7 linked regions of the Homo sapiens genome follow. The protein of the gene in region 2 purifies or fractionates together with the protein of the main gene of each other region. This does not show direct contact. Each region holds a gene or a part of one and is shown on either strand. Other genes may lie near its edges.

Evidence for each region.
Region 1: the proteins of BTK (region 2) and BLTP3A purify together in Homo sapiens (co-immunoprecipitation; one large-scale study listed by IntAct). This does not show direct contact.
Region 3: the proteins of BTK (region 2) and PNISR purify together in Homo sapiens (co-immunoprecipitation; one large-scale study listed by IntAct). This does not show direct contact.
Region 4: the proteins of BTK (region 2) and NAF1 purify together in Homo sapiens (co-immunoprecipitation; one large-scale study listed by IntAct). This does not show direct contact.
Region 5: the proteins of BTK (region 2) and TRIM44 purify together in Homo sapiens (co-immunoprecipitation; one large-scale study listed by IntAct). This does not show direct contact.
Region 6: the proteins of BTK (region 2) and CD19 purify together in Homo sapiens (co-immunoprecipitation; one study listed by IntAct). This does not show direct contact.
Region 7: the proteins of BTK (region 2) and ACIN1 purify together in Homo sapiens (co-immunoprecipitation; one large-scale study listed by IntAct). This does not show direct contact.

What each region holds. Positions count from the first base shown.
Region 1 is NC_000006.12:34,861,583-34,865,082, reverse strand, and holds part of BLTP3A (bridge-like lipid transfer protein family member 3A), read right to left. Parts: intron 1,082-3,500; coding exon 885-1,081; intron 1-884. UniProt on the Homo sapiens protein: Tube-forming lipid transport protein which probably mediates the transfer of lipids between membranes at organelle contact sites. May be involved in the retrograde traffic of vesicle clusters in the endocytic pathway to the Golgi complex.
Region 2 is NC_000023.11:101,375,808-101,380,338, reverse strand, and holds part of BTK (tyrosine-protein kinase BTK), read left to right. Parts: intron 1-2,315; exon of another isoform or gene 2,316-2,480; intron 2,481-4,531. UniProt on the Homo sapiens protein: Non-receptor tyrosine kinase indispensable for B lymphocyte development, differentiation and signaling. Binding of antigen to the B-cell antigen receptor (BCR) triggers signaling that ultimately leads to B-cell activation.
Region 3 is NC_000006.12:99,422,099-99,427,123, reverse strand, and holds the start of PNISR (arginine/serine-rich protein PNISR), read left to right. Parts: upstream 1-1,815; 5' UTR 1,816-1,909; intron 1,910-2,009; exon of another isoform or gene 2,010-2,253; intron 2,254-5,025.
Region 4 is NC_000004.12:163,135,285-163,139,815, reverse strand, and holds part of NAF1 (H/ACA ribonucleoprotein complex non-core subunit NAF1), read left to right. Parts: intron 1-2,565; coding exon 2,566-2,617; intron 2,618-4,531. UniProt on the Homo sapiens protein: RNA-binding protein required for the maturation of box H/ACA snoRNPs complex and ribosome biogenesis.
Region 5 is NC_000011.10:35,721,222-35,725,752, forward strand, and holds part of TRIM44 (tripartite motif-containing protein 44), read left to right. Parts: intron 1-4,531. UniProt on the Homo sapiens protein: May play a role in the process of differentiation and maturation of neuronal cells. May regulate the activity of TRIM17. Is a negative regulator of PAX6 expression.
Region 6 is NC_000016.10:28,936,909-28,940,375, forward strand, and holds the end of CD19 (B-lymphocyte antigen CD19 isoform 2 precursor), read left to right. Parts: intron 1-114; coding exon 115-228; intron 229-362; coding exon 363-467; intron 468-546; coding exon 547-615; intron 616-715; coding exon 716-772; intron 773-860; coding exon 861-917; intron 918-1,764; coding exon of another isoform or gene 1,765-1,767; coding exon 1,768-1,860; intron 1,861-1,963; coding exon 1,964-2,055; 3' UTR 2,056-2,070; intron 2,071-2,232; 3' UTR 2,233-2,434; downstream 2,435-3,467. UniProt on the Homo sapiens protein: Functions as a coreceptor for the B-cell antigen receptor complex (BCR) on B-lymphocytes. Decreases the threshold for activation of downstream signaling pathways and for triggering B-cell responses to antigens.
Region 7 is NC_000014.9:23,061,101-23,065,167, reverse strand, and holds part of ACIN1 (apoptotic chromatin condensation inducer in the nucleus), read left to right. Parts: intron 1-679; coding exon 680-813; intron 814-910; coding exon 911-1,063; intron 1,064-1,590; coding exon 1,591-1,732; intron 1,733-2,093; coding exon 2,094-2,239; intron 2,240-2,644; coding exon 2,645-2,752; intron 2,753-2,892; coding exon 2,893-3,000; intron 3,001-3,545; coding exon 3,546-3,870; intron 3,871-3,983; coding exon 3,984-4,067.

The sequences.
Region 1 (3,500 bases), on a different chromosome or scaffold from region 2:
ACACTGTATGTGTGTGTGTATATATCATAGGATCGCTTAGTATTAATACCACATAGATACAATTATAATTTGTCAATATAAAATAAATAAATAAATAGGACATTCTCTCTTTTTTTTGAGATGGAGTCTCGCTGTCGCCCAGGCTGGAATGCAGTGGCGCAATCTCAGCTCACTGCATCCTCCACCTCCCCGGTTCAAACAATTCTCCTGCCTCAGCCTCCCGAGTAGTTGAGATTACAAGCACCTGCCGCTAAGCCCAGCTAATTTTTCTATTTTTAGTAGAGACAGGTTTTTACCATGTTGGCCAGGCTAGTCTCCAACTCTCGACCTCAAGTGATCCACCCGCCTCGGCCTCCCAAAGTGCTGGGATTACAGGCGTCAGCCACTGTGCCCAGCCTAGATACTCTTAAAGGATCATTTCCTAAGTTTCTATTATTTCAATAAACTGAAAGAACCAGTTTAACTTACAGAGGTAATTCCTAAAAGTTTCTCATTTTATTAACAGATAAAAAGCTCCTATTTTCCAGTGACAACACAGGCAAAAAAAAAAAAAAAAAAAAGACTATAAGCACACTCACACCACTGATACCAACCATGAAACTAATCCTGACTTAGCTATAAGGCTGTAAGACTAGTGCTTTCTCCTTTGGTTTGAATCTCTTTCTGTGATATAGTCAGTTATTAACCAATAACCTAGAAACATGGAATTAAACCCAAACCCACAAGTCCACCAAAATTTCTCTGTCTCTCTTTTTTTGTCTTGATTAAGAAAATGTCTATATTATCATCTCTCAGCTCCTCTTTAGCCCTGCCAGTCTGATACAGGCAGCAGAGAGAACCCTTTCTGGACTTCTGCAACTTTGCCTGGCTCTGCTCCCACATACCAGACTCCAAGAGCATCACAAAGCTATCACTGCCATCACTGTCCACTGAAATCCGGTCTTCAGGGCCACTGCTATCCAATGAGACACCATCAAATGACTGTTGAGATACCGTCCTCTTCATGGAGAAAAATCGGAGTCGTGCAGCACCTCCACTCACTGGGGCTGCCACCCCCTCATCTGTCTTGGCCATGGGCTCCCTGTTTAAAAAAAAAAACAAAAACCACAAATGTGGCTTTGGAGACATGTTTATTCCCATCCACTTACAATACCCATCCCTTTCAGCTCAGACAACTGGATAAAGTTCCCAATATTAGGAACATACAACTTTGACATTACCTATTACTGGCTGTAAAGAGATCAAGTCATTTTTCAATCACTGGCCTTTCTGAATCTTTTTATTCCAACATCGCTAACTGCATGGACAGCGCTCTCATATCAACATTAAATGTCAAGTTTATTCAAGGTCATCCCAGACTCAGAAGAGACCAGCTACCTACTGCTCTGGTGCTGATGAATGGCACCTGAAGCCACCTGCATTCATTCCATAAGTATTTAGTTGCTTCTGTATGTAAGGCACCATACTAGGCACTAGGCAGGAGTGGGAGACGGATAAATTGATGAGTAAGACATCCCCAGTTCTAGACAACATCAAAGAGGAAAAAGGACAAGGAGAAGAGGATCAAGAGTGGCTTTGTGGTAAGAAATAACATTTGAGGTGGTCCTTGAAGGACTGTGAAAGTGAGAAGAGGGTATTCTATAGGCAATGGCATAAACAAAGGCATACAGCCAGAAACAAAAAGAAACTGGTAAGAATAATAGCTCTGCCCAGCTGAAGCATAGGTTTTGTCAGGGAGAGCAATGGAAGATAAAGTTAAAAAGGCATTAACACAGTGAAAAGAAACCTTTAAGGACCTTTAAATACCACCCTCCCATTTTACAGATGAAGAAACTGTCCCAAGGTTACAGTTAAAGGTAGAATTAAGAAAAACTCAGGCCGGGCGCAGTGACTCACGCCTATATTCCCAGCACTTTGGGAGGCCAAGGCAGGCAGATGGCTTGAATCCAGGAGTTCGAGACCAGCCTGGGCAACATGGCAAAACCTGGTCTCTACAAAAAAATACAAAGATTAGCCAGGCATGATGGTGCGCGCCTGTAGTCCAGCTACTGGGGGCTGAGATGAGAGGATCACCTGAGCCTGGGAGGTCGAGGCAGCAGTGAGCCGAGATCACACCACTGCACTCCAGCCTGGGCGACAGAGTGAGACTTCATCTCAATAAAAAAAAAAAGCAAATTATCAGGCCCCATCTCATTCCATGAATGAGAAATAGGGCTCAGAAAACTATGTTTTTGGTTTTTTTTTTTTTTGAGATGGAGTCTCACTGTATTGCCCAGGCTGGAGTGCAGTGGCATGATCTCGGCTCACTGCAACCTCCACCTCCTGGGTTCAAGCAATTCTCCTGCCTCAGCCTCCAGAGTAGCTGGGACTACAGGTGCATGCCAACACACTCAGCTAATTTTTTGTATTTTTAGTAGAGACAGGGTTTCACCGTGTTAGCCAGCATGGTCTCCATCTCCTGACCTCGTGATCTGCCTGCCTCAGCCTTCCAAAGTGCCGGGATTACAGGCGTGAGCCACCGCGCCCAGCCACTATGTTTTAACAAACCCTGCAGGGGATTCTGAGAGAGAAACTATTAAGAAGCACAGACTGTTACAAACCTGAAAGTTTGGCAAATGCATCAACAACTTTAAAAATGTTTGTAGCATTTGACCTAATAATTTCACTTTTTGGTTTTTATTTTATTTTATTATTATTTTTTTTTTTTGAGACGGAGTCTCGCTCTATCACCCAGGCTGGAGTGCAGTGGCATGATCTCAGCTCACTGCAAGCTCCGCCTCCCAGGTTCAAGCCATTCTCCTGCCTCAGCCTCCCGAGTAGCTGGACTACAGGCACGTGCCACCACACCCAGCTAATTTTTTGTATTTTTAGTAGAGACGGGATTTCACTGTGTTAGTCAGGATGGTCTCATCTCCTGGCCTCGTGATCTGCCTGCCTTGGCCCCCCAAAGTGCTGGGATTACAAGCGTGAGCCACCGCACCCAGCCACTTTTTGGTTTTTATTCTAAAGAAAGATTTAGATATGTAAAATATTCCAAAGATTAAAGTTCACAAAAATAAGGACATTTCATACAGCATTGGTTCTACCTGAGTAAAATGGGAAACAGACTAAATGACTCCCCAGATAGAGGAATGGATCAATAAATTATGATATATCAATTTACTAGAATATAATGGAGCAATTAAAAATCATGTATTCAGCCAGGGGAAGTGGCTTATGCTTATAACCCTAGTGCTTTGGGAAGCCAAGGTGGGAGAGTCACTTGCGCCCAAGAGTTCAAGACCAGCCTGTGCAACATGGTGAAACCACATCTCCAAAAATAAAAATAAATAAAAATCATATATTCATATGCCTAATGAATGGGAAAATATCATAATAAAACATTGAGTGAATAAAGCAGCATGTAACATTGTAGAAATAATATAATCCTATTGTTGTAAAAACAGTATTTGTGGATATTATATGCATAACCATCCACAAGTGCACACATGAATGCAGAC
Region 2 (4,531 bases):
TCCAGGAGTTTGAGACTAGCCTAGGCAACAAAGTGAGACCCGTGTCTCTACAAAAAAATTAAAAATTAGCTGGGTGTGGTAGTGCACACCTGTAGTCCCAGCTACTTGAGAGGCTGAGGCAGGAGGATCGCTTGAGCCCAGGAGGTGGAGGCTGCAGTGAGTGGTGATCTTGCTACTGCACTCCATCCTGGGTGACAGAGTGAGACCCTGTCTCAAAAAAATAGAAGGTATATTTGATCAAAGTTTTATATTCACAGTAAGCAATAAGAACCCTAGGGACAGAGAAGGGTGGATGTTCCACCTAAACACTGTGCTTTCATTCCATCAACAATGAAACATCCAGGAAAGGAAACAACAAGTGACTCTAGAAATTCACTAGTTAGACAGAATCTCCTTGGGAATGATTTAAAGAGGGAAAATGTAAGAAAACCTGGCAAGACTAAGAAGAGTCCTCAAGTGCAAAAAAAGTATAGTTGACAGTTACCAGAGACAGATCATCCTTACCAGCCTGGAGGAATATTGCAGAGGAAAGAGCTTAGGATCTTGAATACTCTCTTATCTCCTGTATTTACCACCATTTCCTCTCTTGCTGAACATTCCTAGAAAATGGAGAGGAGTTTGTCACAACTGCTCTTTGATGATAGCCATGGAGAATGACAGGGGCCCCAAGGCAGATGGCATCAACCTCATCAAAGACCAAAAAACAAATAAACGAACAAAAATCCCTCCGGTAGGCAGTGAAACACCACAAAAAAAGCAAGGGCTATAGATGATATACCAAGAGCTACAGATGGATGAGGTTGGACAAGTCACATAACCTCTGTGTCAGTTTCCTCATCTGTTTGTTGTGAGGAATAAATGAAATAATGCCTGTAAAATGCCTGTCAGGTAGAAGTCACTGAAAGGAACAGAAGTTCCATTCCATCCCCCTAAGGAAAGACAGGGAATGGCCAGAATCTTCCTAGCCAATTGAGTAGTGCTTTCAAGGAGAAATCAAGAGAAAACACTACTTCTTGGATATTTTGGCTAAGTAGTCATTTGAAGTACAGTTGACTGGTTATTTTATTTTAAATCATATCTCATAGACTCTTCCCAATCATAGGCTGGCTGTGTAGTTTTCTGAATTTTGCTCTGGTATTCTTCTTCTTTTTTTTTTTTATTTTTATTTTTTATTTTTTTTTTGAGACTCCAGGCTGGAGTGCAGTGTCACGATCTTGGCTCACTGCAACCTCCGCCTCCCGAGTTCAAGCGATTCTCCTGCCTCAGCCTCCTGAGTTGCTGGGACTACAGGCGCCTGTCACCACGCCCGGCTAATTTTTTGTATTTTAATAGAGACGGGATTTCACCATGTTGGCCAGGCTGGTCTCTAACTCCTGACCTCAAGTGATCCGCCAGCCTCAGCCTCCCAAAGTGCTGGGATTACGGGCATGAGCCACTGCGCCTGGACTTATTATTCTTAATAGTATTTTATCTTATGAGCGAAGATAAGAGCCCAAGATGGTTTAGTTTACTGATTCTGCAAGTGCTATTTCTATTAATTCCTTGGCATACTGCAGTTTGTATGATGGCTGCACTCTTGTTAATAAGCTTCGTCTTTCTGAATTCTGTTGCTCCATAGGGAGCTGGGAGGCTGCAAAAGGTGGCCCTGTAAAAATCTTTGCATTTATAATTTAATAAAGGGGACATTGTAACACTGGAACTCCATATTTTAAATGAAGAGCTCTGTGTCTATTTTTTCTCCTCCCCCATTTCTTTCTTTCTATAAACAACAGTGGTGTGTGTGTGTGTGTGTGTGTGTGTGTGTGTGTGTCTGTATGTTTGAGACATTCAAGTCACTTCCATTTCCACCCTTCACCCTGAGTGGAGCTCAGGGTTAGCCATCATTGTGCATATTTTGTGGTCAAACCGACTCTGTAGGCTACTGAAATTGTTTTAAAAAAATTGGGGCCTTTACTGGCCAGGCACGGTGGCTCATACCTGTAATTCCAGCACTTTGGGAGGCCAAGGTAGGCAGGTCACCTGAGGTCAGGAGTTCAAGACCAGCCTGGCCAACATGGGGAAACCCCACCTCTACTAAAAATACAAAAATTAGCCAGGTGTGGTGGCACACGCCTGTAATCCCGGCTACTTGGGAGGCCGAGGCAGGAGAATTGCTTGAACCCAGGAGATGGAGGTTGCAGTGAGCCAAGATCGTGCCACTGCACTCCAGCCTGGGCAACAAAGCAAGATTCCGTCTCAAAAAAAAAAAAAAAAAATGGGGCCTTTCACAATAAGTACCCACAGAAGCTTTACCCTCTAACTACTTTTTAACTCAGAGCTGTGTGTTACACACCAACCTTCTGGAGGACTCAAAAATGGATCCCTTTCCTTTCACATTATTGAGTGATGGACCAGTGGCACCTAAGGAAGAGCTACCACATTTTCAGGCTGTGTGAGTCTGGACTGGATCATAAGAAACAGGAGAAAAGCAGTCAAAGAAGGTGGTACCAAATCATGGCAATTCTGGTAGACCTCTAGCTCAATGATCTAGAGGTGGAGGCCATTTCACCTTTTGCTCAGAGGGGCGATGGCTAGTGAGAGACTTGCTTACTTCCTCATAGTCAGAGCAGCACTAAACCCTGCCCAAACACAGATACTTGAGAGAGAGGAAGACTTCCTCTTGTACAAACTGGATTTGTTCTAAAACAGAGAAAGAGTAGAGGCAGCTTCCAGAAGGACCTGTCTTATAGGAAGTAAGAGCAGGGGACAAGAATGAAACAGATGGTGGGTCTAAGCAGGGAATGTATCCACCAAGAGCCTGCAACAAAACTAAAGATAAAATGTTGCCTGCGATTTATTCGGCTAAGAGAAGTACACCAGACATGGTTTGTTGGGATGCTTCTGACCCCATTTACTGGTCACAGTACTCAATTTATTTAGGGTTTTATTTTTTATCCTGTAATTTGAGTCTTTGATTGTGAAGAGGTACTTAATTATAATTTGCCACAAGAATAATTGTGGTATGATTACAGGGCTCTCAATGAGTTGGTAGTTCCTGAGAATAGAGTAGTATTATTTGGTTACCACTACTCCTGAGTAAATGCATAATTGTAATGTTAAAATGAACCTCTTTGAGTTTAGAGCTAAAACTGAGTGTTGGGAAGGGCTGATTGTAAACTCATCAATTTGTCACTCCAGTGAGAGACCATTTAAACCAGGGAGTCAGGGTGTGTGGCAGGGTGGAGGGAAAGGTTTGCACTCTTGCCCAATTTTTCTCAAAATCTAATTTACAAAATATTGAATTAATCCACCTCCAGAAGATAGTGGCATACACATGGTAGATAAGTGGCAAAGCGATCTTCCAGAACACCCCTGGTGTTCCTTTGACGTATTTTCGTCTCCCCAGCATGAGAATAGAACCTCCTACACCACAGGAAAGAGCAAAATAACAGTGTGGATAGCCCCCAGGCTTTGATAAAATTCACTCCCTTGCTTTCCTAGTGTGAGCAATAATCTGCTTAAAAAGTAGAAAAAAACTGCTGGCTTTATTCATTCTGCTTCCACGGTGCCACCAAAAGCATAAGGAGTTTACTTAAAAAATAGACACATTCCCACCCCCACCCCCCCACCAGAGGAAAAATCCCTACCACTAATTAAACTTGAATGGAGGGCTGGTGGTTTTTTCGTTACTTACTTAGTGTTTTTTTGTTGTTGTTTTTGATTTTGTTTTTTGAGACGGAGTTTCGCTCTTGTTGCCCCGACTGGAGTATAATGGCACAATCTCGGCTCACTGCAACCTCCGCCTCCTGGGTTCAAGCGATTCTCCTGCCTCAGCCTCCCGAGTAGCTGGGATTACAGGCATCCACCACTACGCCCGGCTATTTTTGTATTTTTAGTAGAGACGGGGTTTTGCCATGTTGGCCAGGTTGGTCTTGAACTGTTGACCTCAGGTGATCCGCCAGCCTCGGCCTCCCAAAGTGCTGGGATTACAGATGTGAGCCACCGCGCCGGCCTAGTGTTCTATTTTTATGACAGCATTTGTTTTCACTTTATCTTTCCAATGAAAGTTCGGAATTAGTAATAATATTACACTGTGCATAAACTGTAAGTGAATAACTGATATGAAGTGTTGCTTGGTGTGAATAAAAAAGCCAGTGGTGACTTTGGGAACTTTATTTGTCTTTCTGTGTTTCAGTTACCTAAATTGAATCCTTCTGGAGTATTGTAGGTTTGGGGAGGCTAAATAAGTTGTGTTTCATAAATGAACAGAGGTGGCATCTATATCAGTAAGACAGTTGCATCACTTTTGCATGATGCTGTCTAAAAGAACTAATTTAAGCTAAATGGGGAAAAGGTCAGAAAACAACAACTACCCCCCCCCCACCAAAACCCACCAAAAAAAATTATGTTTTCAACTTTAGAACAAATCTTCTATCCTTTGTAGCTCAGTCAGTGGGTGTGGGCAAAATCAGTTGGGCAGCAGTTAGTGTGTGTCCAGAACTGCAGGTGCAGCCTCCATATCCTTATTAGTTCCCTTGGTTACAGACCCCAG
Region 3 (5,025 bases), on a different chromosome or scaffold from region 2:
ATTACTGATAACATGTGGTATATGTCCTTCTAGTTTTTGCTCCATACAGTGGTTTTTATTTATTTTATTCTTTTGAGACAGAGACTCACTCTGTTGCCCAGGCTGGAGTGCAGTGGAGGGATCTCGGCTCACTGCGACCTCTGACCCTGAGTTCAAGCAATTCTCCTGCCTCAGCCCCCCTAGTAGCTAGGATTACAGGCGCCTGCCACCACGCCCAGGTAATTTTTGTATTTTTAGTAGAGACGGGGTTTCACCATGTTGGCCAGGCTGGTCTTGAACTCCTGACCTCAAGTGATCTGCCCGCCTCGGCCTCCCAAAGTGCTGGGATTACAGGCGGGAGCCACCAAGCCCGGCCCATACAGTGATTTTTTAAAATCAGACTGTCCAGTAGTCTTATTTGTGCTAAGTGGAAATTAGGGAAAGGGTCAGAGAAATAGGGATTTCCTTTTGCCTTCAGTAGTATCCTCATGAACCTGCGTCATGGTGTTGTTAGGTGTAATTAATGAAGGTTTCTCACAAGATAAAATGTTATTTTGAGGACCACGTCCGTGGATTGGAGGAAAGGCAGATGGTTAGCTAGTGACGACTTTATTATAATGCTAATTCAGGAGTATCTGGGTCTCTAGTGCTGAGGAAAACTGAATTTTCATGCAAAGGGCATCTATATTTTCACATCTGTATCTTTATCCATCTAGCTGTGCTCTTACTATTTTGTTTCTACGGTAATTTGCTATTTCTTTTGCACGACAATTGCCCAATGAAATAATTCAGATACTTCGTGCACTTTGTCACGCAGAAGTTTTCATGTTACTCTCTGGAAAGGCACTTCCCAAGATGTAGCTAATAAACACTGTATCTTTGGAACATTTTTGTTTTCCTTTTAACTTGTAGCTCCTAGCCTGGAAATTGATACTTTTGACACTTGAACGTTGTTCATATAAAAACACTGTGAAATCAACATACTGTCTTTGAGGAATGGCATTGCATGCGTCCTTTTGAGAAGCCATCTTGTAGTTGAAGGAAAGCAGCAGGACGGAAACCAGACTTCCCCCCCACGGTTCCCTAAAAGTCACGGATAAAGAATGAAAAACCGGGACTAGTTAAGCCAAGGAGAGAAGAGCAAGTGTTCCCGGAAGGGGGCGCGATGTGTTGAGGTTAACAAAGAGAAAGACAGCTGCGGGGTCAGCTAAGGTCTCCGCTTTCGCTACCGACCCAGACTGCTCACCTTCACAAACTCACGTTTTCCTCAAGCGGCACCCTCGGCAGCGCTCAAGTGAGAGTATTCCATCCTTGGAATACTCCGAGAAGGTTCGAGCCAGAAGTTGGATTGCCTGAAATGCCGCTTCCAGCGCACTAAGTAACTTGAACTGCGCTAAGCAACTGGCCAGAATTGGTTTGGTTTGGTTTGACCCTGGGGTTCCTCCGTAGTCTGTAAGTGGAGTTGCGAACTCAACCCCTTCTCCAAGGCGGGAGTGTTTCTAGGAGGGAACATACTTCCCCTTAAAGGAAGATCACGTTGCTAAAGTAAAAAATTTGAAGGCGCCCTATGTGTAGAACACTTACGTTCTTGGCTTTCTGGCCACTATAAAGATGGGTCGGGAATGGCGCCAGCTACGTTAAAAAGTAACGTGCAGGAATGGTTCAGTTGCCCGGTGTTGACCAGAGTAGAGATGGTTTTGCCCACAAAAAAAATGGCGCCGAAACATGTCAATCCGCACAATCACGTGTTCACAAACCTGGATGAGAGATGGTATGGCTTCAGATGACAAACGGATGTTATTATTCTTTACTTCCGGGTGAGACAAATCGGGCGCCATCTTGTCTTGTTCCCGAAGAAGTAGAAGCATCGAAAGCGTTGGAGAGGTGTTACCGGAACGGCGGCGACAAGGGTGTTCCCGAACTAGAGTGGGTAAGTGATGGAGAACAATTATACGTGGGCACTTGCCGGACCATTACAACGTTCTTGGTTTCTGTGGCGAAGGTAGCATAACTTAAAATAGGCTGCGTACGCTGCTTGGCGCGACCGCTGGAACCTCATTCCTTTAAAGCGCTGCGGTCCGCCAGACTTGGTAAATCAGAGCGCTGCTTTCGCTGAAAAGGAAATGTCCTTGTTAAAGAGAGTGCTCACGGTCCCATCTTCTCACAGAGTTTCCTCTCGGACGAGAAGGGACTAATTGTTGGGTTCCTGACCGGCCGTTAAACACTGCGCGTGCGCAGTGGGAACCCCCTTGTGGGAAGGGGGTTCATGGGGGCGGAGGAGGCGGGGGCTCGCGACCTGGAGCTTATACCCTTTGAGGCTCTGACTACGCAGGCGCAGTTCCTTAGTTTGTGTTTTTCGTGTGTTCTTACCCAATGATGGATATTATGTGTTAAGCTTCGCTAAAGGTAGTATCCAATATTTCAGTTTTTTACCCTGTGGTGGATAGTATCGTCATCTGAACAAATTGAGCATTAGACAAATTTGTTTGTGGGTTGTTAAATTAACATTCTAGCTTAAGATTTTAATTCAACATTAATCTTTTACATCTTTTTACTTCCCCCTGCCCCCAAGTAAAACAAAATAAACTTAGAATTCCTCATTTGAGTGCAGCAGGGCGAAAACAACAGCAACCAGACTACTAAAGATTTTACTTGTGGAATTTTTTTGTAAAGTGGCAAAGGGCTTATAGAGAAAACAGTTCTTTAAAGATGTTCTTGAGAGTTTTTTTTTTTAACTTACTAATAGACTTTATGTTTTAGAACAGTTTTTGTTTACGTTGAGCACATACGACGTCCCCACTACACACACAGTTTATCTTCTTATTAATAGATGTTAGTATGGTACATTTGTTGCAACTAATGAACCAATAATGATAAATTATTAACTAAGGTCCATAGTTTATTCCTACTTCCTCACATTTTACCTAAAGTCCTTTTTCTGTTCCAGGATGCCAGCTAGGATATCACATTACATTTAGTTGTTGTATATTCTTAGGCTGTATATTCTTGGCTGTGACAGTTTCTCAGGCTTAACTAGTTTTTGATGACTGTTAAGGGCTGACTTGTGCCCCTCTAAAATTCGTATCTTGAAGTCCTAACCTCAGTACCCCAGAACGTGACTGTATTTGGAGAGAGGGTCTTTAAAGAAGATGAGGTCACTAGGGTGGACCTTAGCCCAATATATTAATAACTGCTGTCCTTATAAGAAGAGAGTAGGATACAGAGGGATGATCATGTGAAGACATAGGGAGAAGACAACCATCCACAAGCCAAGGAGAGAGGCCTTAGAATGAAATCAACCCCATAGAGCTTACACTATACGCCTCCAGAACAGTGAGGAAATAAATTTCTGTTGCTTAAGCCACCCAGTCTTTGGTACTTTGTTATGGCAAGCATACCAAACTAATACAGTGACCTTGACATTTTTTGAGGAGTATGGTCAGGTATATTGTAGGGTGCCCTGCTATTGGAATTTGCCAGACGATTTTCTCATGATTAAAATGGCCTTACGGACTATATCAGGGGAAGATCACAGAGGTAAGATGCCCTTTTCAACACATGCTATCAAGGATACATACTATCAAGGTGACTTATCACATTATTACTGACCTTGATCATCCTTCTGGAGTAGCGTTTGTTAGATTTATCCACTGTAAAGTTACTTCCCCCACCCCTTTTTATACTGTTCTCTTTGGAAGGAAGTCACTTTGCAGAGCCCACGCTTACTGAATGGACAGTTGTGCTCTTCCTCAGTTAGGGTGGAATATTTACATAATTTATTTGGAATTCTCTGTGGGAGATTTGTGTCTTCCCTCACATTTATTTGTTAGTTTATTTTATCATATCCTTATGGGCTTGTGGATGTTTATTACATAACTTATATTATAATCCAGTACTTCTTTATTTTGTTGCTCAAATTGTACCAGCTTTGGCCATTGGCAGCTCTTCGAGTTGTCTACTGTTCTCCTTTGACATGTTCCTATCAATTTTTTTTTTTTTAGCACTTTATTGCTTCCTGGCAGTATACATGCCCCAGACTCATCTTTTATATTTCCTGTCGCAGTCCTAGAGTCAGCTATTTCTTTAAAGATCTCTGATTCCTTTTATTGAAGAATGGTATTAAAACCAAGTTCTCGTGCCTAGGTGTGCTTGTTGCTACTAGGGTGTCATTTTGGGCGCTCTCGCTACATTTATTTTTAAATTATTATTGGGGGGGTATTTATAACCGACTCTCCAATTCTCCAGTTTTTTTTTTTTTTTTTTTTTTTGAGACAGAGTGTCACTCTGTTTCCCAGACCGGAGTGCAGTGGTGGCACAATCTTGGCTCATTGCAACCCCTGCCTCCCGGGTTCAAGTGATTCTCCTGCCTCAGCCTGCTAAGTAGCTGGGACTACAGGTATATGCCACCATGCCCAGCTAATTTCTGTATTTTCAGTAGAGTGGAGGTTTCGCCATGTTGGCCAGGCTGGTCTCGAATTCCTGGCCTCAAGTGATGAACCCACCTTGGCCTGCCAAAGTGCTGGGTTTACAGGCATGAGCCGCCATGCTTGTCCTCCACTTTTAAAATAGTCTTTTGAGCTACAAGCTGCAAGTATTTCAGTATATACTAAAATGCATGTCACATAAAGTAGCAAAATTTCTGTTTTCCGTATTTCGAATGATTACAAGATTAATTTTTACCAGTGCCATTTCCACCTAATCTGAATTAAACAAATAAATTCTTTTTTGACTTTGAGGTCAGTCAACTCATGTAAGACTGAAATGTCAGGGGTGAAGAGGATTGTTGTATTTTCTGGCTTCTCAGCTTTGTGGTTGATTTGAGAAATATTTCATCCTATGCATCAAATGATAGATGTGTTTCTGTAGCTCTTTGATTTTGTAGTTGATGCTCAAGGACTTTAAAATACCACATTTTAATTCTCATCCATCTCTGTCACAGTCTCTGAGTGACTTTTGTAAATATTAATGATTGTCATTTTGGCCACACGGGGTGGCTCATGCCTGTAGTCCCAGCACTTTGGGAGGCTGAGGAGGATGGATCATTGA
Region 4 (4,531 bases), on a different chromosome or scaffold from region 2:
GTTTTCAAGAGAAAAAAAATGAGTGTTATCTCTTTATTTTGCTTATAAATTTTAAGTTTGTAGAAGAGACAACTAACACGTGTCCCTGAAAAATTGTGTAGAAAGTTACGGTGTATGGAGTTGACCTAACCAACAAACCAGTGCTCTCCATTTTGTCTATCAATAATGCTAAGTGATTTCTGTGGCATGTGACCGCAATATTTTTTTATATTTGTGCTCCCATTGGTTGAATATTTTTCAAATGTTAGCTGTTGCCAGCTGTTAGTTGTAGAGCTGTTTGTATCAGCTAAACTTGTTATAATTATGTTATTTAATTTTTTATATCAGCAAATAGCATATGAATTTAAGATTTTTTTTTAATAAAAATAACTTGAATGCTTTCGAATGATGTAATGAATATGAGCCACTAAAAATATTTTCAAATTGGGAGTGGAAGAAAAGACTGCCAAAGACTGGGGGAAGGTTAAATCCAGAAAGACTTTGCACTCAGTTTGACACAGAAGTTCCTTTTAGTTCTAGCTCTTCTTTTATTGGAGACTTAAAACCTAGGCGATACATTTTTATAGATGTTGTTTTTGCAGGAAAACAAAGGAACTTTGGTCACTGAGTAACTTTGGTATTATGTCAAAGGTACCAACCCCAGTTGCATGGCATAAGAAGATTACTTATACCACTTACATGTTAAATCAAGTCTCAAGTCACCAAATTTCATTTATTTCAGAGATGAAAATTTTGATCCTGATAATTGATTTAACTCATGTTTAAGAATCTACATAAAGATCTGGAGGAATATTTTGCCTAAGTTATTCTTCACATTGCATAAGGTTATTTTCTTAAATAACACTGACAAGAAAGATGAATTAAATACACATAAAGTCTTCAAGATATTAATATGTTCTAAAATGCTTTAAATATTTAGCATTTCATCCTGCTTTGAATATAAAGATACTGCTGTGGATATGCCATATATTTAGCTTTTTAACAAATAGAGTATTTTAGCTTAAAACAGATAAATTTGAAGAGGTTTTCTGAAGATGGTTTTTAAATAGATTTTAGATAATAGACTCAGTCTTTGGTTTTGATTTGCAGTTCTTCTATTAAGAAGCAGTAGTAAATCAGTGAATTGGGAAATTAGACCTATATTGCAGAAACCTCCCTCTCCCAGGAAAACTGTTGTATTCTAGACCTCATTTTGGCATCTGTCATGGGAACTTGGTGGAGTACTTTGTCTTTGAGGTAGAGAAGTTCAGCTCCTTTCCAGCTTACTGTTCTCTAATGAGGCTATTTTGATCTTAGTTTCTCATGTACTTACTGTCTTGTTAAAAGTGCCTTTTGAAATGTTGCTTGATCTTTCCTTTAGTAGATTTTGATTTTTTGTAATAGACGCACTAGTTGGGGAATTTTTCCCATTTATGTCTGTGATTCCAGGCTAACAGCAGTCCAGATCATGAGATGTCATATGTGCAGAAAGGAATACCAGAGATATATTTAAGGCCCATGTGTGAAATGACAATTGAGGAAATGCTTTTTTCTTTTAAGTGATGGAAAAGCCATTGATAATGGCTCATATATAATGTCAAAGTTCCGAATCAAAAATTTAAAGCAAACTTAATAACTTTCATGTTGTGCCAGCAAACTGACATCTGTACATTGATTTTAATGGCCTTAATTCCTGGGAATCTCATTTATTTTTGAGATCTAGTTTAAAACAATAAGGACATCTAGTCCTAATACTTTGTAATATTTTACTTTGTGATATTTTAACATAATGGAATAACAAAATAGTAGCTGAAACTATGAAATTAACAAAATTAAAAAGATTAAAAATGAGCTTTCACAAATTATACTGCTCATAATAGATATCTGTACTTTTGTTGGATGTAAAGTGTAAAACTCTCCACCAAAAGTTGTTGATTTTCAGCTGCAATTACACATTTCACACATGCCAGTCATTATATTGTCCTTCAGAATCTTTAAAGCAGCTTCTCTTCCTCTTCCTCCAACTATTCATAGTTAGCCTTTGTTTGACCCTCACTGCTTTGAGAATCAGTGTTGGAATAAGCCTTGGTTACTCATAGAGGATTGCTGACATTCCTCAGGTAAACTGAGGAGAAAATAATTCATATTGATATCTCTGCCATTAAACCTGTAAAATCTGTGAAAAGGGAATGCCTCATAGTCATTTTTATGTCCTTCGCACATGGAACAACTTCTGATCTACAGTTGGCGTGAAATAAGCATTTTTTTTAAACTGAGTTTTGTGAAAACTGCAAATATTATGAAAACAAAAATCAAAAGAGCTGTCCATCTGCTTTCCACTGCACACCATAGCCTTGGCTTCTCATTCCAGTTCCCTAATCCTAATATTTCTACTTGCTCAACTTTTGTGTTTTTCTTAGGAGCTTCCCACATCTTTTGAAATAAGGTAAAAGACACATAACTGTATTGCAAAATTAAAGGTTGAACTCATGTCCTTTACTTTATTATTTTCTGTACTTTTAAGTTATGAGCACTTAATAGAATTGTGATGAATACTTTTTTGACTCCCATCCCCACCCCACTCAGGGATAAGGGATCAGATGCATCATGGAAGAATGATCAGGAACCACCACCAGAGGTAAGTATAAGTCTTTTTATGCAACATTTTATAAAGTAGGGCAGGACTTAATCTTATAAATTTTATCATTCTTGCTGTTAGGGAAGTCATTAATACTGGCTAGCAGCCATACTGCCTTATCCTGTCCTAGCGCATGTATTCTCTCACCGTCCTAGATGACTATTTCATACCTTTCAGTGAAAGGTTTTGATTGATCATTTAGGAAAAAAACTTTTTTCAGTTACATTTAGTTGTATTTTAATAATTATCACCTTATCATTTACATTGTAGTTTACTATTTTTGTCAACTTTGTTGATGTCTGATAAAGGCAGGCTGTCATTATTTTTTAAAAATTTAATTGAGTTTAGTAAATACACCATATGGGACATGAAGACATGGTGCTTTTAATAGCTGTCCTTCTTTTGGAAGTACAGAATCATTGGAAGCACAAGATCATTGGAAGCTACCTACCTCTCTACTTTTTACGATATAACTACCTTTCTAAAAAGAGACCTTGATTTTCTTTTTGTATCTATGTCAGCAAAACAATAGTTTTATGCCCCAAGGTGACTTGATAATCTAGTCTTCCTAGAGATGTGAAGTAAATTTAGGAATAATATGTAAATAAGTTAATGATTTAATAGGATTACTTGGTTAACATTCCATGAAAGTGTTTAAGCAGATTATCTTGAGGGGTTTTTTTTTTGAATTACAACAATGAATATATTCATTTCTTAAAAATAGCATGTATTTATACAGTATAAAATAAAAATGTATATAAATATTTTTATAAGTAAAAATTATACATGAGAGTTTTTAAAGCTTGCTCAGCAGTTCTTATGAAGTTTTCTCAGTATTACAGTTTTTTTTTTGTTTTTTTTTTTTTTAACAAATATAGACATGGGGGTCTCAGTGTGTTGCCCAGGCTGGTCTCAAGCTCTTGGCCTCAAGTGATTCTCCAGCCCTCAAGCAAGCTTCTGCCTTGGCTCCCCAAAGTGCTGGGATTACAGGCATGAGCCCCTTGCCCAGCCAGTATTACAGATTTTTGATACTTACCGATTTAACCTTGGCCATTTTAGATGTTTAAAGCAATCGTAAATCATGATCTGTGTTTCTAATTTTACTGAGGTATGAATCAGGTTTATGCCCACTTGGAGGGTTCTATACAGGTATGAATCACTTAACCAGTGAATGATCCTTGCTTAGTATCTGAATTGAAATGGAATTATGTTTTCTAATTAATGTTATGTATTTATGTGATTTCAGTTAAGGCTCTGAATATTCACTTAATGTTCTGAATTAAGTTTTAGAGTATCTATAGCATCTTATTACTGGAATTACATGTTTTAAACGTGTTTAGAGATTCATAAACATCTCAAATCATATTTCTTTTAAAATCCAGATATTCTTTTTTTCTTTTTTTGGGTAGGGGATGGAGTTTTGCTCTTTCTGCCCAGGCTGCAATGCAGTGGCACGGTCTCAGCTCACCGCAAACTCTGCCTCCGGGTTCAAGCAATTCTCCTGCCTCAGCCTCCTGAGTAGCTGAGATTACAGGCGCATGCCACCACGCCCAGCTAATTTTGTATTTTTATTAGAGACGGGGTTTCACAATGTTGTCCAGGCTAGTCTTGAACTCCTGACCTCCAGTAATCCACCCCTCTCTGCCTCTCAAAGTGCTGAGATTTCAGGCGTGAGCCACCGCACCTGGCCAAAATCCAGATATTCTAATGAATCCCTCTTGTTTCGGACCTAAGCATTGAAGTTACCAATTACAACAATGCGAGTTATTTGTAAAATTGGTTTGACTAGGTTAATTGCAAAATTACATCTCACCTAGTTCATGGTGTTTGTTTTTTCCAGGTAGCTTGAACTGGATCATTAAGTATCTTGGGATTTAATTTTGTAATATTTGTTGGTGAAACTTTGTAGTCTAG
Region 5 (4,531 bases), on a different chromosome or scaffold from region 2:
TGGATTAATTTGACTTGCTAGTATTTTGTTGAGATTTTCTTTAAGCCACATTTCTTTTAAAAAATAGTTTTTAAAAAGTGTTACATGTTATTTTAGAAAATTTGGACTGAGAAGTGAAAAAGAGAAAAGTACTTGTAATTCCACCATTCACAGATAACCACTCTCCAACATTTTGGTATTTATTTTGGTCTTTTATAATGAAAATAATAACAGTAACAACAGCAATAGTAAATACCATTATATTATTTCATTGAGTGGATACCTGAAGTAACTAAGCGGTTAACTGAGATAGAGTTCCAGTGGTAGTACCTTATTAACAAAGTGGAGGTGATGAAAGAAGTAAAGATACAAATGACTGCTTTTGCCTGGAGGCTTCTGAAGAAGATGAGAAAGATAGCTTAATGAAGAGTTTAAATGTTCACTTCAGTAAACTTTTGTCCTTTCATTCTCAATACCCCATTGTAAAACCTGCTCATTTCAGGCTTCTAACTAGGTCGCTGAGGATGACATCACTGAGAATGTTGGTAGTGGAATGCTGTTCAGAGTTTATGTCTACCGTGTTTCTAGGCTGCTGAATAATTTTCTAAGCCTGGTGGGTGGGCAGTTGTTTTATTCACAAATAGTGGCTATTCCACTGATACACAAAAGACACAAGAAATAGGAGATCTTGCCATCCATTGAAAAAGCCTTGACCTCCTTGTTGATGAAGTTTTTCCCTTGCCTGCCCTCACTGGAGTCTGGCCTAAGTTTGGAAGGAGCTGTCTTGGAGTACAATGTAGGAATAAATGCTGAAGGCTAAACAGATGCCTTAACTTTGAACTTCCCAACTTGAAGTTTCCATAGACACTGGCAAGTGGGGAGGACACTGTGCTGTGGGAGTGTGGACAGCTTGTAGCATCTGAAAAAGTTCCATTTCCTGCTTTTTTGTTTTTCTGTTTTAGAACAATGGCCTTTCAAATGAGGAAGAGGGAAGTGAAAATGGACTTTTTGGGGAGATATTTAGAGTCTTCAAACTCTATTTCATGCAGTCTACAATTTTTAAAGTTATTTTTGGAGTAGTCTCCTTAACACCTTGCAGGAAATTTGGCTTGTAGGACTGTTACCAAATAGGGGTCCTGACCCAGACCCCAGAGAGGGTTCTTGGATCTTGCTCACGAAAGAATTCAGGGCGAGTCCATATAGTGAAATGAAAGCAAGTTTATTAAGAAAGTAGAGGAATGAAAAAATGGCTACTCCATAGGCAGAGCAGCCCCAAGGGCTGCTGGTTGCCTATTTTTATGGTTATCTCTTGATCATATGCTAAGCAAGGGGTGGATTATTCATGCCTCCCCTTTTTAGACCATATAGAGTAACTTCCTGGCATTCCCATGGTATTTGTAAACTGTCATGGTGCTGGTGGGACTGTAATGGTGAGGACCACCAGAGGTCATTCTCATCGCCATCCTATTTTAGTGGGATTTGGCCAGCTTCTTTACTGCAAACGTGCTTTATCAGCAAGGTCTTTATGACCTGTATCTTGTGCCGACCTCTTATCTCATCCTAAGAATGCCTAACCTTCTGGGAAGGCAGCCCAGTAGGTCTCAGTCTTATTTTACCCAGCCTGTATTCAAAATGGAGTGGCTTTGGTTCAGACGCCTGTGACAAAACAAATGTTTCTGAAATATTCAGTGTAGATTTGGATGCTTCTCTTTTGAGTAGCTTCCTGCTCCTAACCCTGACCATTATTCTCAGTTCATCTCAGCAATACTTTTCTGAAACAAATTGTTTTTCAATCTCTCTCTCTTTCTCTCTCTACCTCCCTCCTTCTGTCTCTCTCTACCTCCCTCCCTCCCTCTCCCCCTTCCAACTCTCTCCCTCCCTCGTCTCTCTCTCTCTTTCTCTATCTCTCCTTCTCTTTCTTTTTCTTGTTTCGACAGATTCTCATTTATAACTCTTTTGAAATGATGAGTTGTAAAAGTACATTAGACTGGACCAGAGGAAAGTTTCTAAACCTAACTTTATTATCGTACTTCTCTGTGACTTTTTTTCCCCTTCACCTATAAAATTAGAAGGTTAGATTCAGATGTTCAATAGGTAGTTCTGACCATACAGTGGTCAAAATTTTCAAATTGCAGTGCTATGTTATAATTTCAATACAATGCTATGTTTAATCATATTCCACTTCACCCTAATGCAACTATAACAAAGATATATCAGCTTGATTGTAACTAACATGCCAAAGGTTTTGATGTCTTAGGTTGGAAAATGCTTATTTGTTAATTAGAGAATGAGAGTGGGAAAAAGGCATAAAGGTTTTGTAAAGCGGATTATTTTTTCCTTCAGTTTTCATTTGTGACCTGATCTGTATAAAATACAGTGTCATGCTGAAAACCCTATGTAATTAAAGCCATGGGAAATAGAGAATTTTAAAATCCATGACTCATTCACCTGCTGCAGTCTGGCCCACACCTTTACTAAGTGAGATGTCAGCTTCCTAACTGAACCACATGTGTATGTGAAGTCTAGTAAAATAGGTTGTGAGTCAGTTTTTATTATGATATCCATTTTTAGTTACTGGTAGCCATTAAGAGAGTTTCTCAGGCATTCAGAAAAGTCCATCCCTTAGTGAAAAGGTTTGGTCTCTGAGAGAAGGACCTAGTCATTTGAGACTCAATTTATTTCAGGAGTAGAGATCCATTGATCAATGATCACTGTAAAGCATAATAGCCCTAAAATACATACACTAAAAATAAAAAGGAATTATATAAACACAAATCACAGTTCTCAATCTGATACAGAATTTACAGGGACATTAATAACATTTAATACACTTTCCCATTTTCTCCAGCACCAAGGAGAGCACCTGCAGAGAGTATATGAGGGCTTATGACACTTAGTCACTTGATGTGTGAGCAGATACATGTCATACAGGCCTTATTTTGCACTGATGTCCTTAGTAGTGTTACAAAAGCTGCGTAAGGTATCAAGCTTCTTTCGGTTTCTAAGGGGCTAATTAAAAATTAATCTGCTACCCCCTCCTGTAGGCTTTGTCTTTCACAGTTTCCTTTCTTAGGTTTTCCCAGTTTGACTTCCCTTCTGGCAGACTTTTATAGTGAACAGAGCACCAGACTGAGAACAAGAAGATTGGAGTCTTTCCCTCTTCTACAGGTTTGCAACCGTGTCCATTTCCTTATCTGTAAAAGGAAGGGGTTCATTTAGATGACAACTGTTTTCTCTTCCAGTTCTAAAATCCTCCATTGGCTTTTCTTCTGCCTTTCTCCTTTTGTCTACGGTTTACTTCTTCCCTGCTCCCTATCTCAGCTACACTCATAATATGCATAGTTGTTTTAAAATAATCATAAAATAAACATGGTTGTGAGGAAACATCAATAAATACAGTTGCTGGTAAAATTTGGAGTTTAGAAGTTCTCATTTTGATAATTTCTCACTTTGTTAGCCTTTCTTATGCCCTAAGCATAAATATAGCTAGCAGTTGTATTTTCTTTGGTTTGCAGTTGTTATAAAATAAAACAATAATATATTTGCACCCATGATAGTAAAAGTTTAAAAGCTTGATATAATCCAGTATTGGCAAGGGTGTAGGAAAATGCTTACTTTCATATGTTGTTGTAGGAATGTAATCAATACATCTTTCTCAGAAGGCACCTTGGCAGTATGAACCAATATTTTTAGAGTATATGCCAATTTACTAAGTGGCTCTAAACATCTTTAAAAAACTCATATGCGTATATTAAGAGATATAGCCAAGGATGTTTATTGCTGTGTTGTTTATAAAAGCAAAAATTTGGAAATATCCTGTACTTCCATTAAGAGAGGAATGGTTAACTAGGAGACATGCACACACTCACACACACACACACACACACACACACACACACACACACCCTCCATCTCCATATCATACAGATAGTAAAAATAGTAGAATGAAGTTGATCTGTATGCACAAATATATCTTAAGTAGAAAAGTAAGACAACCATATTTTCCCTATGATTCATTTATATAAAAACTACTTAATTATCTATATACATATATGTACATAACTATATAGAAAAATGGCTGGGAGGATACATACCAAACTATTAACAGTAATTGGGGCGGAGAGGAAGAATTTCGTTTTTTGTTTTGTTTTGAGATGGAGACTTGCTCTGTTGCCCAGGGTGGAGTGCAGTGGTGCGATCTGGGCTCACTGCAACCTCCACCTTCTTGGTTCAAGCAATTCTCCTGCCTCAGCCTCCCAAGTAGCTGGGATTACAGGCACCCACCACCATGCCCAGCAAGTTTTTTTGTATTTTTAGTAGAGACAGGGTTTCCTCATGTTGGCCAGGCTGGTTTCGAACTCCTGACCTCAAGTGATCCAGCCGCCTTGGCCTCCCAAAGTGCTAGGATTACATTCATGAGCCACCACGCCCGGCCTCATTTTTTACTGTATATATTCATCGTATATATTACTGGTATAAAAATGAACAAAACCGAAAGGAAAAAAGGATAAGAAATTACTCCCTGAAGAATGAAAAAGGCAAAAAGATTAGC
Region 6 (3,467 bases), on a different chromosome or scaffold from region 2:
CAGAGTCCATTCGCAGAGCCCAAAACATCCTCTTCCCGTGCCCCGCCGCGCGGACCCTTAGCCTTGACCGCCCCCATCTCTTCTGACCCCGTCTTACAATGCCCCTCTCACCAGGACGCGCCCAGCGTTGGGCCGCAGGCCTGGGGGGCACTGCCCCGTCTTATGGAAACCCGAGCAGCGACGTCCAGGCGGATGGAGCCTTGGGGTCCCGGAGCCCGCCGGGAGTGGGTGAATGACTGGGAGAGGGAAGGGTCGTTCCCCACATGGAGGGGGTTGGAGCGGTCTGTGGCCCGAATAGTGGACTGGGCCCTGGAGGAGAGGGGGCATGACTCGGTTCCCCATCCCCATCCCCAAACCCCCAGGCCCAGAAGAAGAGGAAGGGGAGGGCTATGAGGAACCTGACAGTGAGGAGGACTCCGAGTTCTATGAGAACGACTCCAACCTTGGGCAGGACCAGCTCTCCCAGGGTAAGGCTGCCCTCCCCCGTGGCCCCCCACCTCTGCGGTGGCCTGTGGACTCCCATGGACACCCCTCCTTCTCCACCAGATGGCAGCGGCTACGAGAACCCTGAGGATGAGCCCCTGGGTCCTGAGGATGAAGACTCCTTCTCCAACGGTAACTTGGGGCCTTTGTGGGACCTCAGAGACTTAGGTGTAATTGCAGCGCTGTGACACTCCTAGAAGGGGTCCCTGGAGTTCTCTCTCTTCTGCCACAGCTGAGTCTTATGAGAACGAGGATGAAGAGCTGACCCAGCCGGTCGCCAGGACAATGGGTGTGTGTGAGGATGGCAACAGTCCAGGGGGGAGGCGGAGGACACCTGGAGGCCAGGAGGAATAGTAACCTCCCTCTTCCCTTTCCAGACTTCCTGAGCCCTCATGGGTCAGCCTGGGACCCCAGCCGGGAAGCAACCTCCCTGGGTGAGAGATGCTTTCAATCAGACTGCCTTGCCCAGCTTGGGTGACCTGGCCTCAGCTCTGACACCAGATCCAACTTTGACCTGACCCTGACCCCAAACCCGAACCCAATCCTGTGACTCCTCTCACCTCAACACTGAGCCCCATCCCCCATCCTGAGCCCCATCCCCCATCCTGACCCCCAATATTTACCCCCTCCCTAACTGTGAATATCAACACCGATCCCAATGCAGTATCAGCCTGGACTTGATCTCCACCTCACCTCAGCCCCAGTGCAGACCTCAACTTGGACCCCAGCTTACTCTGCAGCTTCTTCATGACTCTGACTCCGACTCCCTCCAGTTTCTTCTTTTTCTTTTTCTTTTTTTTGAGACGGAGTCTCCCTCTGTTGCCCAGGCTGGAGTGCAGTTGCCACCTCTGCCTCCTAGGTTCAAGCGATTCTCATGCCTCAGCCTCCTGAGTAGCTGGGATTATAGACGTTTGCCACCACACCTGGCTAATTTTTGTATTTTCAGTAGAGACAGGGTTTCGCCATGTTGGCCAGACTGGTCTCCAACTCCTGGCCTCTAGTGATCTGCCCGCCTTGGCTTCCCAAAGTGCTGGGATTACAGGCATGAGCCACCACGCCCAGCCCAGTTCTGTTCTTGACCCCTTCCTTAGCCATAATCTAACCCATATCTAACCCTGACCCTACAGCTAACTGGGGCCCCAAACTCAATGCTAACCAAATCACCCCTTCCCAGCACAGCATGGGTAATGCTCCTCACCTTCCTCTGCCCCTCAGTCTTCCTCCTTACCGTAGGCTGTACTTCCCATGCCCTAGCCTCCAATTCTCCATCCCCCGCCCAAGCAGGGTCCCAGTCCTATGAGGATATGAGAGGAATCCTGTATGCAGCCCCCCAGCTCCGCTCCATTCGGGGCCAGCCTGGACCCAATCATGAGGAAGGTGGGTGCTTCTGCCGCTGTCCCCTGCTGTCCCCTGGGCTGACTTTGCCTTCCAGCCTACTTCCAGTGCCACCCATGTTCTCCTCCTCCCTGGTCCTATCCAGATGCAGACTCTTATGAGAACATGGATAATCCCGATGGGCCAGACCCAGCCTGGGGAGGAGGGGGCCGCATGGGCACCTGGAGCACCAGGTGATCCTCAGGTGGCCAGGTGAGCTGGGACTGCCCCTAGGGAAAGCGGGGAGGGAGGGAGATAGGCACGGATGGCAGTGGCTGCTGGCTTTCAGGGAGGGAGAGGGAACAGGGTTCCTAGGGCCTGGTGGGCAGGGGGAGGACTGCTGGACCCCTCCCCATCACCGTTTCTTCTGCATAGCCTGGATCTCCTCAAGTCCCCAAGATTCACACCTGACTCTGAAATCTGAAGACCTCGAGCAGATGATGCCAACCTCTGGAGCAATGTTGCTTAGGATGTGTGCATGTGTGTAAGTGTGTGTGTGTGTGTGTGTGTGTATACATGCCAGTGACACTTCCAGTCCCCTTTGTATTCCTTAAATAAACTCAATGAGCTCTTCCAATCCTATGAAGTAGTGCCATTGTGTGGGAAGGAAGGGAAGGAAAGGAAAGGAAGGAAAGGGAAGGGAAGGAAAGGAAGGGAAGGAAAGGCGTCTTGAATCCCATGGAAGAGGGAGGGCTGCCTTCTGCATACAAAGGGCCTTTTCCCGGTGCGGTGGCCCACACTTGTAATCTCAGCACTTTAGGAGGCCAAGCAGGTGGATCATTTGAGGTCAGGAGTTCGAGACCAGCCTGGTCAACCTGGTGAAACCCCGTCTCTACTAAAAATACAAAAATTAGCTGGGTGTGGTGGCGAGCCTGTAGTCCCAGCTACTTGGGAGGCTGAGGTTGGAGAATCACTTGAACCTGGGAGGCAGAGGTTGCAGTGAGTGGAGATGGTGCCATTACACTTCAGCCTGGGCGACAGAGCGAGACTTCGTCTCAACAAAAAATAAAAATAAAAATAAAACAAAGGGCCTTTCCCCTTCCATGGCCTAGCCTTCACCTACTGCCCTCTTTTGCCCGCTGCCCACAGATCCGTCACGATCAGCCCCCTCCCACCATCCAGCTACCCAATTATCATTAATTCAGCAGTTACATGCTGGGTGCCCAGTGGAGAAACAGCCCAGGAATTAGCAGTCTAGTTAGAAGATGCTATTCATTGTCACTGAGTACTTATTTATTGAGCATCTACTATACTCTTCTTTTTTTTTTTGTTTTTGAGACAGGCTCTCGCTTTGTTGCCCAGGCTGGAGTGCAGTGGTGCAATCATGGCTCACTGCAGCCTCGACCTCCCAGGCTCAAGAATTTCTCCCACCTCAACCTCCCAAGTAGCTGGGATTACAGGTGCCCGCCACCATGCCCAGCTAATTTTTTGCATTTTTAGTAGAGACGGGGTTTCACTATGTTGGCCAGGCTGGTCTCGAACGCCTGACCTCATGATCCACCCGCCTCGGCCTCCCAAAGTGCTGGGATTACAGGTGTGAGCCACCGCACCCGGCCACAGCTCATTTTTTATTTTTTGTAGAGATGAGGTCTTGAATGCCTCATGCTGCC
Region 7 (4,067 bases), on a different chromosome or scaffold from region 2:
ATCTGTAGTGTGAAAATTAAAGGAAGACCAGATCCCATCATGATCTTAGTTCTGCCTAGATGTTAGTATCACATAGTGTTCTTGTTTCTTCTGCATTTACATGTCCTTCTCAGTTTTTCTTCCACACTACTTGATATTACTGTCTACCATTAAAAGTTTAAACGGCTCATCAAACTAGCTACCCCTCCCTTACTGCTTTTAGATCAGTGTTCAGTCTGAAGCCATGGTTTCCCCAGTTCCCAAATATGATTTCTTTTCTTTTTTTTTTTTTGAGACGGAGTCTTGCTCTGTCACCAGGCTGGAGTGCAGTCAGTGGCACCATCTTGGCTCACTGCAGCCTCCGCCTCCCGGGTTCAAGCAATTCTGCTTCAGCACCCTGAGTAGCTGGGATTACAGGCATGCACCACAACGCCTGGCTAATTTTTGTATTTTTAGTAGAGATGGGGTTTCACCATGTTGGTCAGGCTAGTCTCAAACTCCTGACCTCGTGATCCACCCGCCTTGGCCTCCCAAAGTGCTGGGATTACAGGTGTGAGCCACCACACTCAGCCTCCAAATATGATTTCTTTAAGTTAACCTTTTACCAAAACTCCAGCCAGAGGTAACCTGTAGGTATTACGGTTTGAACTAGCAGAGGTCCTGAGACCATCTAACTGTTGGGTCTATTTCTTGGGGACAGCAGCTACCAAGGGGGTGCCAGCTGGAAACAGTGACACAGAGGGGGGCCAGCCTGGTCGGAAACGACGCTGGGGAGCCAGCACAGCCACCACACAGAAGAAACCTTCCATCAGTATCACCACTGAATCACTAAAGGTGAGGTGGGAGGAGCCAGGGAAGGGAGGATGAGACCTGTTAAGGTGGGAGTAGACATGGGCCCAGTGTAACGGGGTGGGGGGTATCTGTGTCCCAGAGCCTCATCCCCGACATCAAACCCCTGGCGGGGCAGGAGGCTGTTGTGGATCTTCATGCTGATGACTCTCGCATCTCTGAGGATGAGACAGAGCGTAATGGCGATGATGGGACCCATGACAAGGGGCTGAAAATATGCCGGACAGTCACTCAGGTAAGGCTTCTGCACCCCAGTGTCAGGGGAAAGGTGGGAGCAGTAGATGCAGAGCAGCTAGCTGAGGAGCTGAGATAAAGTCTTTGGAGGGAACTTCCCTGTCTGTGCAGAGGGTTGGGTTGACTGACACTTTCAGGGGTCAGACTACCAAATCCAGCTGGCTACCTGTTACAAATAAAGTTTGATTGGAACACAACCACACGAGTTCATTCACTTTTGTCTGTGGCTGTTTGTTCACTACAACATCACCAGAGTTGAGTAGTTGCAACAAACTATGTGGCCTGCAAAACCTGAAGTACTGCTTTGCTCTACAGAAAAAATTTACTAACTCCTGTCTTAGTTTTCCTCAAGGCAAAGTTGAGGCACTAACAATCCCAGGATCTGGTAGAAGTGAGCCGATAACGAAATACCCCTAGCGGAAGGAACATGCTAGATTGACTGCTACTCTTACCGGGGAACCAGAGGCTGAAAAGAATATGCCAGTTTGGTGTTTAACAGACCTGCTGTGTTCTCTGACACCTTGATAGGTAGTACCTGCAGAGGGCCAGGAGAATGGGCAGAGGGAAGAAGAGGAAGAAGAGAAGGAACCTGAAGCAGAACCTCCTGTACCTCCCCAGGTGTCAGTAGAGGTGGCCTTGCCCCCACCTGCAGAGCATGAAGTAAAGAAAGGTGAGTGACATATTGTGAGAGAAATGTAATGCGGCTCCCTGAATTCTCAGAGCACCTCATTTGGATCGCTGAAAGCTTTGAATGTTTCCTGCCTTTCATTATATTTTTTCGTATATCATATCTTTCTCCTACATATTAAGTAAGCTACTTGAGGGCCAGATTTGACTCTGTTTAATCTTTGAATCTCCATGATGAGGAGGTTAGCCTAGCACAGTACTTTGCAGATTATAGGTGCTCTGCACGTTTAGATTAAGGAGTGGCTGCTTGGTATAAAAGAAAGGGAACCGTGAGAGTTACATTGAGGGTGAAAAGAGCCAGTATTGCTTCCTACCAAAAGCTGTTCTTGTGGTCTTCTTGATAGTGACTTTAGGAGATACCTTAACTCGACGTTCCATTAGCCAGCAGAAGTCCGGAGTTTCCATTACCATTGATGACCCAGTCCGAACTGCCCAGGTGCCCTCCCCACCCCGGGGCAAGATTAGCAACATTGTCCATATCTCCAATTTGGTAAGTCATTGTTTCTCACCATCCCAGCTTGCTTAGTGGTTAAGTTTGAGCTTTAGGCTTATGCCTCCTAGGTTCCACTCATAGTTGAACTGGTCTACCAATAGATTAAGTTACTCACTGATCTTGAGTGAGTTACTTAACATATTTACCCATCTAAAAATGAGGGGGAAAAGCTGTTGCCCTGCAGGGTTGTTTTGAGGACTTGCAGAAGGCCTCACATACAACGTCTCAATTAGTGCTGGGAAGCACCACCACTCTTCTCACATTCTTACTGCAAGGTTCCTAAACTCTCTGCCCTCCCCCAAACCTTGAAACTATACTCCTGTGACAGCAGCTCGGGAAATCTAAAGATTGGGTGGTGGTCTTGCCTTCTGCTAGACCCTGAAAGTCTATTTTCATTGGCAGGTCCGTCCTTTCACTTTAGGCCAGCTAAAGGAGTTGTTGGGGCGCACAGGAACCTTGGTGGAAGAGGCCTTCTGGATTGACAAGATCAAATCTCATTGCTTTGTAACGGTGAGGGGAAGAAGCTGATTCTATAGGTCATGGCATATATTTCCTTTTGTGACCAGTGTGGGCAGGTTTAAGGGTGTTGCAGCACGTGGGAAGGGTTGCAGACACACTGTGACCCTCCATCTTCTCCCTTCCTCCACCAGTACTCAACAGTAGAGGAAGCTGTTGCCACCCGCACAGCTCTGCACGGGGTCAAATGGCCCCAGTCCAATCCCAAATTCCTTTGTGCTGACTATGCCGAGCAAGATGAGGTAAGAAACCTAGGGAGAGGAAAGAGAGGAGGGGCAGGGGAAGCCATTATCTGCTAGATTTCAGCTGAGATCCTTGCCAGACCTGCAGTCTCTGAGCTTCTGTTCTTTTCTCTTCTTCCCTGGCTTTGGTTCCTTTAATTGTACCATGGGGCTTCAAAGTGGTACCTGGGCTCCTTTTTTTTTTTTTTTTTTTTTTGAGACAGAGTCTCGCTGTCTCCCAGGCTGGAGTGCAGTGGCGCGATCTCAGCTCACTGCAAGCTCCGCCTTCCGGGTTCACGCCATTCTCCTGCCTCAGCCTCCCGAATAGCTGGGACTACAGGCGCCCGCCACCACGCCCGGCTAATTTTTTTGTATTTTCAGTAGAGACGGGGTTTCACCGTGTCAGCCAGGATGGTCTCGGTCTCCTGACCTCGTGATCTGACCGCCTTGGCCTCCCAAAGTGCTGGGATTACAGGCGTGAGCCACCGCGCCCGGCCATCCTGGCTCCTTGAGTGGGAGTGATATCACCTCTATCCTAACTGTCCTTGTCCCTCCTCTCCCCACAGCTGGATTATCACCGAGGCCTCTTGGTGGACCGTCCCTCTGAAACTAAGACAGAGGAGCAGGGAATACCACGGCCCCTGCACCCCCCACCCCCACCCCCGGTCCAGCCACCACAGCACCCCCGGGCAGAGCAGCGGGAGCAGGAACGGGCAGTGCGGGAACAGTGGGCAGAACGGGAACGGGAAATGGAGCGGCGGGAGCGGACTCGATCAGAGCGTGAATGGGATCGGGACAAAGTTCGAGAAGGGCCCCGTTCCCGATCAAGGTCCCGTGACCGCCGCCGCAAGGAACGTGCGAAGTCTAAAGAAAAGAAGAGTGAGAAGAAAGGTAGGTACTTAGCTATGGGGTACGCATACCCACTAGTAGGTGGGAAAGGGACCCAGATGGGATGGGACAGAGGGTCAGATGCATCATATCTGGTTCACTTTTTTCCACCTCAGAGAAAGCCCAGGAGGAACCACCTGCCAAGCTGCTGGATGACCTTTTCCGAAAGACCAAGGCAGCTCCCTGCATCTATTGGCTCC